Linked DNA regions of Homo sapiens. Changing the gene in region 3 together with the main gene of any one other region gives a genetic interaction. Each region holds a gene or a part of one and is shown on either strand. Other genes may lie near its edges.

The links.
Region 1: changes in MCM3 (region 3) and UBA2 together harm fitness less than expected from each alone (positive genetic interaction), as found in Homo sapiens cells (one large-scale study listed by BioGRID).
Region 2: changes in MCM3 (region 3) and TIMELESS together harm fitness more than expected from each alone (negative genetic interaction), as found in Homo sapiens cells (one large-scale study listed by BioGRID).

What each region holds. Positions count from the first base shown.
Region 1 is NC_000019.10:34,441,753-34,446,377, reverse strand, and holds part of UBA2 (SUMO-activating enzyme subunit 2), read right to left. Parts: intron 2,535-4,625; coding exon 2,467-2,534; intron 1,379-2,466; coding exon 1,257-1,378; intron 1-1,256. UniProt on the Homo sapiens protein: The heterodimer acts as an E1 ligase for SUMO1, SUMO2, SUMO3, and probably SUMO4. It mediates ATP-dependent activation of SUMO proteins followed by formation of a thioester bond between a SUMO protein and a conserved active site cysteine residue on UBA2/SAE2.
Region 2 is NC_000012.12:56,438,430-56,443,054, forward strand, and holds part of TIMELESS (protein timeless homolog), read right to left. Parts: intron 1-4,625. UniProt on the Homo sapiens protein: Plays an important role in the control of DNA replication, maintenance of replication fork stability, maintenance of genome stability throughout normal DNA replication, DNA repair and in the regulation of the circadian clock.
Region 3 is NC_000006.12:52,267,028-52,272,171, forward strand, and holds part of MCM3 (DNA replication licensing factor MCM3), read right to left. Parts: intron 2,200-5,144; coding exon 2,059-2,199; intron 980-2,058; exon of another isoform or gene 942-979; coding exon 838-941; intron 1-837. UniProt on the Homo sapiens protein: Acts as a component of the MCM2-7 complex (MCM complex) which is the replicative helicase essential for 'once per cell cycle' DNA replication initiation and elongation in eukaryotic cells.

The sequences.
Region 1 (4,625 bases), on a different chromosome or scaffold from region 3:
CCGAAAGTGGATTCTCTCCAGCAGAAAGAAAAAGAGTTTTCGGTTATGTGGAACAGTCTCTCAACAGGTAAATTATGTCCAATGGTTTCAAACCTGTTATTATATCCTTAAGGTCATCTGCTTAGTGAGAGTTGCAAGAATACTGAGGCAGTTTGATAAGAGCTGAGAAAGTTTTAAGCTCTGTGATAAACTTGCTAGGGGCTAGGCTCAGTGGTTCATGCCTGTAATCCCAGCACTTAGGGAGGCAGAGGCTGGAGGATCGCTTGAACCCAGGAGTTTGAGACTTGAAACCAGGAGTTTGAGATCTGCCTGGGCAACATGGTGAGACCCCATTCTCCACAAAAAGGAAAAAAAGAGTCAAAAAAACCCCACACACGTACAACTTGCTAGGGAGTCAAGACAGAACAAAAAAACTTTTAAAACACGGACCTACGGGTCTAGATGAACAATAATTAGGTAGACCCAATAAAAACAATTTCACAGATTTCTCTAGAAATATTTAACAGGCAAATAGTATATACTACTGATGAAGAGGGATTTCACCAAGAAAAAGGGGCTTATGGGGTTCAAGGGCAATTTAGGACACATGTCAGTCAAACTGCTAATAGCAGATATGAGCAAGAAATAAAAGTGAACATGAAGCCAGGAGCAGTGGCTCACGCCTATAATCCCATCACTTTGGGAAGCCAAGGTGGGCAGATCACTTGCAGTCAGGAGTTCATGACCTACCTGGCCAACATGGTGAGACCCCGCTTCTACTAAAAATACAAAATTAGCCAGGCCTGATGGTACACACCTGTAATCCCAGCTACTCGGAAGGCTGAGGCAGGAGAATCACTTGAACCCAGGAGGCGGGGCTGCAGTGAGCCGAGATCGTGCCACTGCACTCCAGCCTGGGCGACAAGAGTGAGACTCCATCTCAAAAAAAAAAAAAAAAAAAAAGTGAAGATGAGAAGCAGCAGGAAAACGAAGAAGTTCTGTAAAAAGTGAGAGAAGGAAAGACAACCAAGAAGGTATACAAGCCACCTCTCATTTTACCTCCTATTTAGATGTTATACTGATAGATTTAGTGTAGATGGTAACATTTTAAAACTTGCATATCCTGACTGCATCAATCATTTTATTAGGACATCACAAGGCATATACATAGAAGCTTAATTCAATTTTATGGACTATTTTAAAACAAGCAGAACTAGAACAATACATCTATGCACAACAATACATCTATCCATGATTATAAAAAAAGTAAATCTAACCTTGGTAAAAAGTTTAACTGGATCATATCCAGTTGATTTAGCCCATTCCTTAGTAGAAATACGTTTAATGTCACCATCTTCATTAGATGCTCTAGCTCTGGCTTCGGCTTCCGTTGGTTCCCCTATAAAACGATCATTATTTTATTTTCAACCGTAATAAATGTAGAACTGAACTCTTTTCACTCACCTTTGGGAATAAAAAGAAAGTCACTCATGGAAATCCCCAAATGCAACACATTCTGAGTTCAAGGAATAAGAAAATAACACATTCATCAGCATCTTTTTGTATCCCAGTTTCTTTCTTTCTTGTTTTTGGAGACAAAGTCTCACTCTGTTGCCCAGGCTGGAGTGCAGTGTTAAGATCTCGGCTCACTGTAGCTTCTACCTCTTGGGCTCAAGCCATCTTCCCGTCTCAACCTCACAAGTAGTTGGGACTACAGGTATGCACCACCATGCCTGGCTAATTTTTATATTTTTTGTAGAGACAGGGTTTTGCCATGTTGGCCAGGCTGGTCTCAAACTCCTGACCTCATGCAATCCAGCTGCTTCAGCCTCCCAAAATGCTGGGACTACGGGCGTGAGCCACCTTGCCTGGCCTGTTGTAACTTAGTTTCTGAAAGCTACACATATAACAGTTCAAAGCACAGACCAGTCATGAGATCTAGGAACAACTCGCAGCTCTATTTACTAGACTTGTGAAATTTCTCTTAACCTTGATTTCCTCATCAGTAAAACGGAATCATATTTTTTTTGTAAAACATTGTTTTGGATAGGCACGGTTGCTTACGCCTGTCCCAGCACTTTGGGAGGCCAAGGCGGGTGGATCACCTCAGGTCAAGAGTTCGAGACCAGCCTGGCTAACATGGTGAAACCCTGTCTCTACTAAATATACAAAAATTAGCTGGGCGCGGTGGCAGGTGCCTGTAATCCCAGCTACTCAGGAGCCTGAGGCAGGAGAATCATTTGAACCCAGAAGGCGGAGGTTGCAGTGAGCCGAGATTATACCATTGTACTCCAGCCTGGGCAATAAGAGAGAAACTCCACCTCTGAGACAAAAAAAAAAAAAAAAAAAAAAAACAAAAAAAAAACACATGTTAAACACACATTACCTAGCACATATAGCAATTTTTTTCCCTTAAGCTACCAAAATTAAATCAACAAAATAAAGATAATAGTATCTGATAAAACATATGCCAAATAATTTACTCACAGGCAGCTTCAGGGTCAGCTCTGTCAGGAGATACTTCTTGATCAGCATCTTCTTCCCCAAACAACTGGCTATAATTTAAGAATAGTAAATACTTCTGTATAACAAAGCATTCTAAACAAACATGTAATTTAGAATATTCCAAATATTTAGCAGAGATAAAGACTGAACAACTGGCTGGGCGCAGTGGCTCACACCTTTAATCCCAACATTTTGGGAGGCTGAGGCAGGCAGATCACAAAGTCAGGAGTTCGAGACCAGCCTGACCAACATGGTGAAACCTCGTCTCTACCAAAAATATAAAAATTAGCCAGGCGTGGTAGCGCACGCCTGTAATCCCAGCTACTCGGGAAGCTGAGGCAGGAGAATCGCTTGAACCCAGGAGATGGAGGTTGCAGTGAGCCGAGACTGCACAACTGCACTCCGGCCTGGGCAACAGAGCAAGACTCCGTCTCAAAAAAAAAAAAAAAAAAGTGAATAACGGATAAATGACTATAAACTTAAAAGTTTAACACAATGTGCTTGGACAGCTTGCATCCCAATTTCAACAGCAATGTAAGCAAGGTTAAATTTTAGCAGACCTACATCCATTCCTATCAGCGAGGCTCTGCACATTTCAATGTTAAAACCTCTGCTCAAGAAACAGGTGAGTGGTTTTCACTTACAACCTGGATAACATTCTAACACCAGAATAATGTTTGTGTTTACACCTGCAGCTACCTGTTCAACAAACATTATTATATACCTCAGGTGCAGAGTCCCCATCTAGGGGATAGAAATTCAGCAATGAACAAGATTAACTTTTTTTCATGGTAGAATGGCTCTTTACTGCTGAACAGAGTGTTAACAAACAATTTGAAAGTATTAAGCTGAGATTCTCTTTTATTAATAAAGTTATCCTAAAAACTGTTTAATAACTCATGGATATAAAAGTTTCCAGTATTTCCTCAAGTATATGATTAATGAAAGTTATCTTACAGAAATCCTTTGTACAACCCCCCACCCAACTATAATTTCAAAGCTCTGATAGTCACTCCCAACAATGGCATGTTAACACTTCCTAAAATTAACGCTTTGCCAACTAGTGAGTGCAAAATAGTAGACAGCCGCTAATTTAAAATGGTCCACCAATGATTTTTCACCTTTACAACAGGTTTATTGAGGTTATATTAAAATGCATTTTTGGCTGGGCGTGGTGGCTCACATGTGTAATCCCAACACTTTGGGAGGCCGAGGCGGGTGGATCAACCGAAGTCAGGAGTTTGAGACCAGCCTGGCCAACAAGGTGAAACCCTGTATCTACTAAAATACAAATATTAGCTGGGCGTGGTGGCAGACGCCTGTAATCCCAGCCACTCGAGAGGCTGAGCAGGAGAATCGCTTGAACCCAGGAGGCAGAGATTGCAGTTGCACTGCACTCCAGCCTGGGCAACAAGAGCGAAACTCCATCTCAAAAAAACAACAACAAAAAAAGCATCATTTTTTACTTAATGGTATTTTTTATTTATGATGAGTTTATCGGGAAGTATCTGAGAAGCATCTGTAGCTTACTATGGTCTTATACTTAATTTTCCAAGTAAGTCTTATGATTAAAACATAACTTGCTTATTGCTTATTTAGGTTTCCCTTCGAGTGAAAAATGCTGCTCATATTAATTTTGCCAGATTATCTTTTTTGTGTGTGTGACAGGGTCTTACTGTCCCCAAGGCTAGTGTGCAGTGGTGTGATCACAGCTCACTGCAGCCTCGACCTCCTAGGCTCAAGTGATCCTCTCACCTCAGCCTCCCAAGTAGCTGGGACCACAGGCATGTGCCACCATGCCTTGCTAATTTTTAAATTTTTTGTAGTGATGGGGTTTCACTATGTTGCCCACACTGCTCTCAAACTGCTGGGCTCAAGCAATCCTCCTGCCTTGGCCTCCTAAAGAGCCGGGATTACAGGTGTGTGTCACTGCACCTGGCCACATTATCTTTTTTTTTTTTTTGTCTTTTTCTGAGACACAGTCTCGCTCTGTCCCCCAGGTTGGAGTGCAGTAGCATGATCTCCATTCACTTCAACCTCCGCCTCCCAGGTTCAAGCGGCTCTCATGGCTCAGCCTCCCGAGTAGGTGGGACTACAGGCGTGTGCCACCACACCCCACTAATTTTTGTATTTTTAGTAGA
Region 2 (4,625 bases), on a different chromosome or scaffold from region 3:
ATCCTCCTGCCTCCTAATTATGCTAACTCAAATTTGAAAGTCTATATTTAAAAAGGGCACAGCCAGGTTCAGTGGCTCACGCCTGAAATCCCAGTACTTTGGGAGGCCAAGGCGGGAGGATCACTTGAGCCCAGGAGTTTAAGACCAGTTTGGGCAATATAGTGAGACCTCGTCTCTACAAAAAATTTAAAAAATGAAATTATCCGAGTGTGGTGGTGTGTGCTTGTGGTCCTAGCTACTAGAGAAGCTGAGGTGGGAGAATTACTTGAGCCTGGGAGGTGGAGGCTGCAATGGGCTGATATTGCGCCACCGCACTCCAGCCTAGATGACAGAGCAAAGCTCTGTCTCAAAAAAAAAAAAAAAAAAAAAAAAAAAAGGAATGGAATACTGACTGATACATGCCATGAAGTAGATGAAACTTGAAAACATGTTCAGTGAAAGAAGCCAAACACAGCCGGGTGCAGTGGCTCACACCTGTAATCCCAGCACTTTTGGAGGCCAAGGTGGGCAGATCACCCTGAGGTCAGGAGTTGAGACCAGCCTGGCCAACATGGTGAAACCCTGTCTCTACTAAAAATACAAAAAAATTAGCTGGGCATGGTGGCGGGCGCCTGTAATCCCAGCTACTCGGGAGGCTGAGGCAGGAGAATCGCTTGAGCCCTGGAGGTGGAGGTAGCAGTGAGCCCAAATCGTGCCACTGCACTCCAGCTTGGGCACCAAGAGTGAAAACTCCTTCTCAAAAAAAAAAAAAAAAAAAAAAAAAAAAAGAAGCCAAACACAAAAGGTCATATATTGTATGATGGAATTTATATGAAATGTCCAGAATAGGCAAATGCAATAGGCTGATATGGGCACAGTGGCTCACGCCTGTAATCCCAGCACTTTAGGAGGCTGAGGTGGGCAGAAATGGTTGTACAACTCTCTGAATATACTAAAAATCACAGAATTGTACAGGGGTTTTCTTTTTTTTTTTTTTTCTTTTGAGACAGGGTCTCACTCTGTTGACCAGCCCAGGTTGGAGTACAGATCAATCATGACTCGCTATAGCCTCAACTCCTTGGCCCAAGCAATCCTCCCACCTCAGCCTCCCAAGCAGCTGGGACCACAGGCATTCAATACCACATCTGGCTAATTTTTAAATTTGTGTAGAGCTGGTACCTCCCTATGTTGCCCACACTGGTCTCAAACTCCTGACTGGCCTCAAGCAATCCTCCTGCCTTGGCCTCCCAAAGTGCTGAGATTACAGGTGTGAACCACCACACCTAGCCTGAATTGTACACTTTAAAAGGGTGAATTTTACAGTATATGAATTATATCTCAAACAGCCGTTATAAACAACACTCCACACAATTACTATACGCATTCTGTTTCTACCATTTTAACACCAAAAAAACTACAGACAAAAATCTCAGGATAAAATACTGTCCTTCAAATTTAATAAATATGACTTCATGAAAAAATTCATTACATTGACTTTATTTTCACATTTCATCATAGACCAGGTGAGAACTTTGTCAAACACCACAGAGCCAATGGAACTGGACATTTAAAAGGGATGTTAGTTACTTTTCCTACTCAACTAAGTATCAAGCAGTTCAGATGAAGCAATATGCATCTGAAATCAATACTTGGAGGCATTAAAATGCAAGAACCAAAAGAAAACAACAGATAAAATATTAAATGTATTTGCAATTCAAATTAACCTTTTTTTTTTTTTTTTTTTTTTTGAGACAGAGTCTTGCTCTGTCGCCCAGGCTGGAGTGCAGTGGCACGATCTCAGCTCACTGCAACCGCCACCTCCTGGATTCAAGCAACTCTTCTGCCTCAGCTTCCCAAGTAGCTGGGACTACAGGCACGCGCCACCATGCCCAGCTAATTTTTGTATTTTTAGTAGAGATGGGGTTTCACCATATTGGCCAGGCTGGTCTCAAACTCCTGACCTCATGATCTGCCCACCTGGGCCTCCCAAAGTGCTGGGATACCAGGCATGAGCCACTGCGCCCGACCAAATAAACTTACTTTTTGAAGACGAAACAAAACACTCTACCTGCCCCAAACCAACTCTGCTCCAAGGATCCTCTTTGAGACCCAGTAGTATGAACAAAATGGCATCTAGCACTTGAATTCCAATTCTGTCTGGTACTAAACTGGTGAACTTGAGCAGGTGGCTTAACTAAATCTCTTTCCTTATCAGTATACTGAGGAAATAATAATAATACCCACCCTCACAAGATATTAGGGAAGTGTAAATGAGATCATGTAAAGCAATGCTACTCAAACCTTGGTCTTCAGACCACTGCCAATCCACAAACTATTAGCAGTCTGCATCAAGGTAAGTACAGAAAGAAAGCATTAGCACTTAGAACATCTTAGGGCAATTTGACAGGCAGTTTACAGTTTTGTTTTGAGACAGGGTCTCCCTCTGTCACCCAGGCTGGAATGCAGTGGCGTGATCTTGGCTCACTGTAACCTCTGCCTCCCGGGTTCAAACTATTATCGTGCCTCAGCCTCCCAAGTAGCTGGGATTACAGGCCTGTGCCACCATGCCAGGCTAATTTTTTTGTGTTTTGTAGTTGAGATGGGGTTTCGCCATGTTGCCTAGGCTGCTGAACTCCTGGCCTCAAGTGATCCACCCACCTCGGCCTCCCAAAGTGCTGGGATTACGGGCATGAGCCACTGCACCCAGCCAATGTTTGTTGAATCTAATGATGATAATAATAAAAAGCCTGTATTCTCTATGTCTTTTTAAATGTTATTTTTCTAGTAATTTTATTTTACAGAAGTGCTTTTAGAACACTACTGATCTGCAACAGCTTGAGGGAAAAATCTACCTGGTCCTTTACCAAGACAGTTTGAGAAGCAGTGATATTAAGCACTCTACCCAGTGCTGAGCACAAAGTAAGAATCCCTGGCTGGACATGGTGGCTCACGCCTGTAATACTAATACTTTGGGAGGTTGAGGTGGGAGGATCACTTGAGTCCAGGAGTTTGAGACCAGCCTGGGCAACATAGCGAAGCCCAGTCTCCACAAAAAATAAAACACAAAAATCAGCCGGGCATGCTGATGTACACCTTTAGTCCCAGCTACCCAGGAGGCTAAGGCAGGAGGATCACTTGAGCCCAGGAGGTTGAAGTTGCAACGAGCTGAAATTGTGCCACTGCACTCCAGCCTGGGTAACAGAGTGAGACCCTGTCTCAAAAGACAAATAAACAAAACAAACAGAACCCCTCCCCCGCCCCAAATATTAATTTCCTCTCCATCTGTCAGACTCTATAGTCAGTTACTAAATGCTTAGGGAGAACCTTCCTGGCAAAAGATAGCGTGCAGGTGCAATGGTAGCGCTAAAGAAATTTAAGAAATGTAGATGCAGAGGCCAGGCGCGGTGGCTCACGCCTGTAATCCCAGCACTTTGGGAAGCCAAGGCGGGTGGATCACAAAGTCAGGAGTTCATGACTAGTCTGGCCAACATGATGAAACCCCGTCTCTACTAAAACTAACAAAAAATTAGTCAGGTGTGGTGGCGGGTGCCTGTAATCCCAGCTCCTCGGGAGGCTGAGGCAGGAGAATCACTTGAACCAGGGAGGTGGAGGTTACAGTGAGTTGAGATCGTGCCACTGCACTCCAGCCTGGGCGACAGAGTGAGACTCCGTCTCAAAAAAAAAAAAAAAAAAAGAAATGTAGTTGCAGAAATAAAATCCACAAATATAGAACAAACAATGTAAAAGATAAGGCAGTACAAGCTCTAAATACGTGATACTGAAAAAAACTAAAAAACTAGTACTCTTTTCAGGTTAAAGTGGTCAAGGAGGTTTTGTCTGAGGAAGCATGATTAGAACTGGGCCTTTGAAAGCTGCATAGGATTAAGGCAGCTGGGAATAGGATGGGCATTTAAGCAGAGAACTGCCAGTGCAAAACCAAAGAGGGAGCCATTATGAATAGATGAGTCCAACAGGAAAGCAATGGAAAAGCAGCTGGAACCAGCTTTATGGGAAAAACCTCATCTTTGTCCATCAGTTCAAAGATTTAGAACCTAAGCCAGGGAGCCACTGAAGATTTCTGAGCTAGAAAACAAAATGATCAAACCAGGGTCACACATATCCTACTACTGTATCACTATATACATCAGTTTGGCCATTTTCCCGTGTGGCCTCTATCTCTTTTCCTTTCAGTGCACTCACCCTGCAAAAGACCATACATAACCTCAGATCAATGCAACCATCTGCTTCCTAGACTTCAATTCAAATCTAGGCCCAGATGTGCTGGAGAAAACCAAACGACCCTCTATAGTGATATAAGATAGATGATGTTGCGGGAAGTCAGGGACCCCGAATGGAGAGACCGGCTGAAGCCACAGCAGAAGAACATAAATTGTGAAGATTTCATGGACATTTATTAGTTCCCCAAATTAATACTTTCATAATTTATTACGCCTGTCTTTACTGCAATCTGTGAACATAAATTATGAAGATTTCATGGACATTTATCACTTCCCCAATCAATACTCTTATAATTTCCTATGCCTGTCTTTAATCTCTTAATCCCGTCATCTTCATAAACTGACAATGTATGTCATCTCAGGACCCTGTGATCACTGCATTAACTGTACAAATTGTTTGTAAAACGT
Region 3 (5,144 bases):
TCTTCAGTAGAGGGGTCAAAAGCACACAAGAAGGACTCGCTCTCCTTCTCTTTTACCCAGGGTATCTTCTTTTTTTTTTTTTTTTGAGACGGACGGAGTCTCACTCTGTCACCCAGGCTGGAGTGCAGTGGTGTGATCTCCACTCACTGCAAGCTCTGCCTCCTGGGTTCACGCCATTCTCCTGCCTCAGCCTCCCAAGTAGCTGGGACTACAGGTGCCTGCCACCACGCCAGCCTAATTTTTTGTATTTTTAGTAGAGACAGGGTTTCACTGTTAGCCAGGATGGTCTTGATCTCCTGACCTCGTGATCCGCCTGCCTCGGCCTCCCAAAGTGCTGGGATTACAGGCGTGAGCCACCGCGCCCAGCCTACCCAGGTTATCTTCATCCTCAAACCCCGCAGGTCTAGGAACACTCTCCATGAACAACCTGACATCAATAAGCAGCGCTGGTTCCACCTTCTACCCTCTACTTCTCTCCCCAGTCCCACTGGAACTTACTACTTTTTTTTTTTTTTTTTGAGATGGGATCTCTCTCTGTCGCCCAGGCTGGAGTGCAGTGGCACGATCCTGGTTCACTGCAACCTCTGCCTCCCAGGCTCAAGCAATCCTCCGACCCCAGCCTACCGAGCAGCTGGGACCACAAGTGTCCGCCACCACGCCCAGCTAATTTTTCTATTTTTTGTAGAGACAGTTTTGCCATATTTCCCAGGCTGGTCTCAAACTCCTGGACTCAAGTGACCCACCCGCCTCGGCCTCCCAAATTGCTAAGATTACAGGCGTGCACCCCCAACTTCTTGGCCACTAACTTTTTAATCTCATTTGCTTGCCCCACCTTACCTCTTCCTCTTCTGCTCCTGGTCCTCTTGGCTTTTCTCCTCTTCATCTTCTGTCTCTGATTCATCCTCACTTCGCTTCTTACGTTTCTTCTCCTTCTCCAGAACCTAAGACCAAGGCAAGTGTGGCTGGGCTAGAGGGGTCACTGATGCAGGGGAACTGCATCAAGAACTCCCAGTCCCTTCTGCATCATAAGCAGGAAAGACTTCCATGTTTCCAATGGTTTACCTAGCTCCTCTTGTCCCTAAGTCCCAGGACCAGGGGCAGAAGTAGAGACTGCTACCCATCTTTTCAAAATGCTGGGAAGTATGTTAAATGCTGTTTATATAGTAGGTACTCAATAAATGTTTACTGAATAAAGAAACAAATGTCTAGCCCATAATGGTTAAGTGAAAACAATCCATTTCCTTATAAATCAGGTGTCTAATTGAAATCCAAGACAACCCTTAACCTAGCAAAAAGCGAGGAAGAGTTTATCAGACTCACAACTCAACCCTTAACCTAGCAAAAAGCGAGGAAGAGTTTATCAGACTTACAACTCAACCCTTAACCTAGCAAAAAGTGAGGACGAGTTTATCAGACTCACAACTCAACCCTTAACCTAGCAAAAAGCAAGGAAGAGTTTATTAGACTCACAACTCAACCCCAAAAGGCTAACATTCACCAGACTGGGGTGGGAGTGGGCAACTAGGAAAAGGGAGTCTAGGCTTTGAGGCTTGATATCTAAAATGACAGAGGTGCAATGTCACAAACAGAAATAGGGAAACAGGATGAGTGGCAAGTTTGAGAGTTCAACTTTAAACATGAGCTTCTGAGGTGCCAATGGGACATTTGAAGAGACTACCAAGAGGAAAGGTAGAGTGGGACAAGGAAGATTACCAAGGTAGCTCTTTTGAAAACACCTACTTTTTTTTTTAAGATGCAAAGGAAGTAGGGGTAGACAGAGAAGCAGCTAACTGAAAGTACAGCACATCAACTAAACCAGAATCTCTAGGAGCCCTGGAATCAGCATTTTAAAGCTTTCCATCTGATTCTCTGGTGCAGTCAGGGTTGAGAATCACTGAGTGTTTCAGAGGAAAGAGTGAGGCAGACTGATGACTGGAAGACAAATACTGCTTTCTGTTGACAATCCAAATGTAGCCGTCAGCCACGGAAGGCTGGGAAGCCCATGCATCTGTAATATATCCAGGAGATCCTCTCATGCCCAGGCATCTGAATCCTCACCTTCTTAAAGTAAGCATACTGGACCAACTCCACAGCTTCCTCTGCATCCTGCAGGTCCACAGTCTTGCTCATGCGGGCCTTCGCATGGGCTGTGGCCAGTCGAATCAGAGTTTCCAGTGTTCGGGCTGTAACTGGAGATGTCTAGGGAAGAAAAGGGAGGATTGCTTATCCCAAGTCTTTTAGGCATGCCCATCAATCCTACTGCACAGAAAGGGAAATGACACTACCAGAAAAGCCCCAGGAGGCCCAAGCAAAGAATTCAGAGTTCTGTGTTCTCTACAGATACCATATAAAAATGAGAAAGATGATAGCAATGATCAAGGAAATATACACAAGAGTGTTGCAGGAAGGAGGAGCAAGTGAACAGGGAAGATTAGGCATCTAACAACTGGAAAGATAAAAAGCTACAGCGTAGAAAAGAGAAGGGAGAAAAATCATCAGTGATTGCAGGCCTGCAATGCAGCAGGAAGTTTGCCTTTATATACATTCTGTCATTTCACCCTCTTAATAACTTGGAGAAGTTTTATACATGAAGGAAATGGGACTCAAAGACCTTCAAGGAGATTTTCCAAAGTCACACTAAAGGAGGGATAGGAAAGAAGTAATCTGAGGACAAAAACGTAACTTCAGTAAACTCAGTCCGGAGAAGGAGAACTCTGACACATTCCTAACAAATGTTTCTCACAGGGGCCGATGAATACCAAACTGGGATGCCTTTATCTTTTAAAATGCTATTGTCTGAATGGCCTTTCTTGACCTAATCAATCAGAATGAATTGGAAATGAATGAATCAGAAATCTCAGTGTTTAGGACTAGATATGTGTACAAGTTTCAGGTGATTCTGATGTATCCAATCCTCTCATTTTATGGATAAGAAAGCTGACCTGACAGGTGAAAGGATTTGTCCACAGTCCAAAAGCTAGCTGCAGAGCTGGGATCAGACATGAAACTACTTCCAGCCCGGACGTGGTGGCTCACATCTGTAATCCTAGCACTTTGGGAGGCCAAGGCAGGCGGATCACAAGGTCAGGAGCTTGAGACCACCCTGACCAACATGGTGAAACCCCATCTCTATTAAAAATACAAAAGAAAAATTAGCCCGGTGTGGTGGCGCATGCCTGTAATCCCAGCTACTCAGGAGGCTGAGGCAGGAGAATAGCTTGAACCCGGGAGGCAGAGGTTGCAGTGAGCCAAGATCATGCCACTGCACTCCAGCCTGGGCAACAGAGCGAGATTCCATCTCAAAAAAAAAAAAAAAAAGAAAAAAAAAGAAACTACTTCCTTCTGTCACACCTCCCGGGTCTCCCATTATATGACCCCATCACTGACGTATCCTGGTCACTTCTTGTTTCAAGTTTCCTAAATTACCATGTATATCCACAATGACATTCAAAAATAAATACATTCACATTTAAATTCATTCATCAAATCTTGTAATAATTTAGAAAGCTACCGGAGTTTGGAAGTCATACACTCCATGACAAGTTCTAATTCTTAAACCACCTAAAAAGCTGGTGAAATCCTGGCCTGCACTAGCAGACCTAGAGAATCCAAATTCTCTTGGAATTCACTTACAGACCCCACACTAAGACAATTAAAATAGTGTATGACGCTCAGTTCTAGGTTCAATGAGAGGGCCTGGGACACACCAGAAGTTCGCATGTGGAAAGGAACAGTTAAAAAGAAAGTAAGCTGTTTAATGAGGAAGACAGGCGATACACAACCTCCAGAAAACAAGACTAACACCCACAGGTAAAAGTTGTGGGAAAATAGGTTTAAGCTTAATAAATATTCTAAAATTTCAAAACAGTGATGCTCTGCGCATGCTGTCACTGGGGGTATTAAGAAGTCCCGGCCGGGCTCATGCCTATAATCCCAGCACTTTGGAAGGCCGAGATGGGCGGATCACGAGGTCAGGAGATTGAGACCAGCCTGGTCAACACAGTGAAACCCCGTCTCTACTAAAAATACAAAATTAGCCGGGCATGGTGGCACGCACCTGTAGTCCCACCTACCCGGGAGGCGGAGGTTGCAGTGAGCCCAGACCATGCCACTGCACTCCAGCCTGGGTAACACAGCAAGACCGCATCTCAAAAAAAAAGTCCCAGCAGGGATTTGAAAAGACAGAGTGGGTGAGGCTTGAGTAGATGATCTGGGATCATGTCTAATCCAAGAATCTATGTCTATGTAACATAATAAGAGTTCTGGACTTGGGTCTTTCTGCTGTAAAATCCTATGTGAACTACACTGCCCCTAAAAGATTTAGACAAATTTGGGCCGGGCATGGTGGCTCACACCTGTAATCCCAGCACTTTGGGAGGCCAAGCCGGGCGGATCACCTGAGGTAGGAAGTTCCAGAGCAGCCTGACCAACATGGAGAAACCTGGTCTCTATTAAAAACACAAAATTAGCCGGGTGTAGTGGTGCATGCCTGTAATCCCAGCTACTCAGGAGGCTGAGGCAGAACAATCGCTTGAACCAGGGAGGTGGAGATTGCAGTGAGTTGAGATCGCGCCATTGCACTCCAGCCTAGCCAACAAGAGTGAAACTCTGTCTCACCAAAACAAAAACAAAAACAAAACAAAAAAAAGATTTAGACAAATTCATGGACACCTATATTAGGTTACCAGAAATTGCTTTGAATAACCATCATGGTTGCCTGTTAGTCATTTTTTCAAAGTCCAGTCCAAATATCATACTCTCTGGGAATCCTTCCTTGACATTCATACCCCTTCAGGGAAGTCTAAAAGAAATTAACAGTTTATTCGTCTATGCTCAAATAGCCTTTCACGTTCATTCCTTTGTAAGTACCACACTGGGGTAAATATTTATAAATATGTACGGAAGTCTTTCTATCTACCTTTGTGCTTCCCCCGCTCCGGATCTGAGCTCTTTGAAAAGAGTGTTTATTAATTTTACATTGCTTGTAAGAGGAAAGACTAGGTCACTTCCCAGAAGTCACTCCTATGTTTGCTGAATGAATCACAGCTTCTGGAGGCCAATGTCATTTTAACTAATAAGAGACATGTTATCTCTGGGGTCCTTATTTCATTTTCCTTTATAAAAGGAAATGATTAAAATTGTAT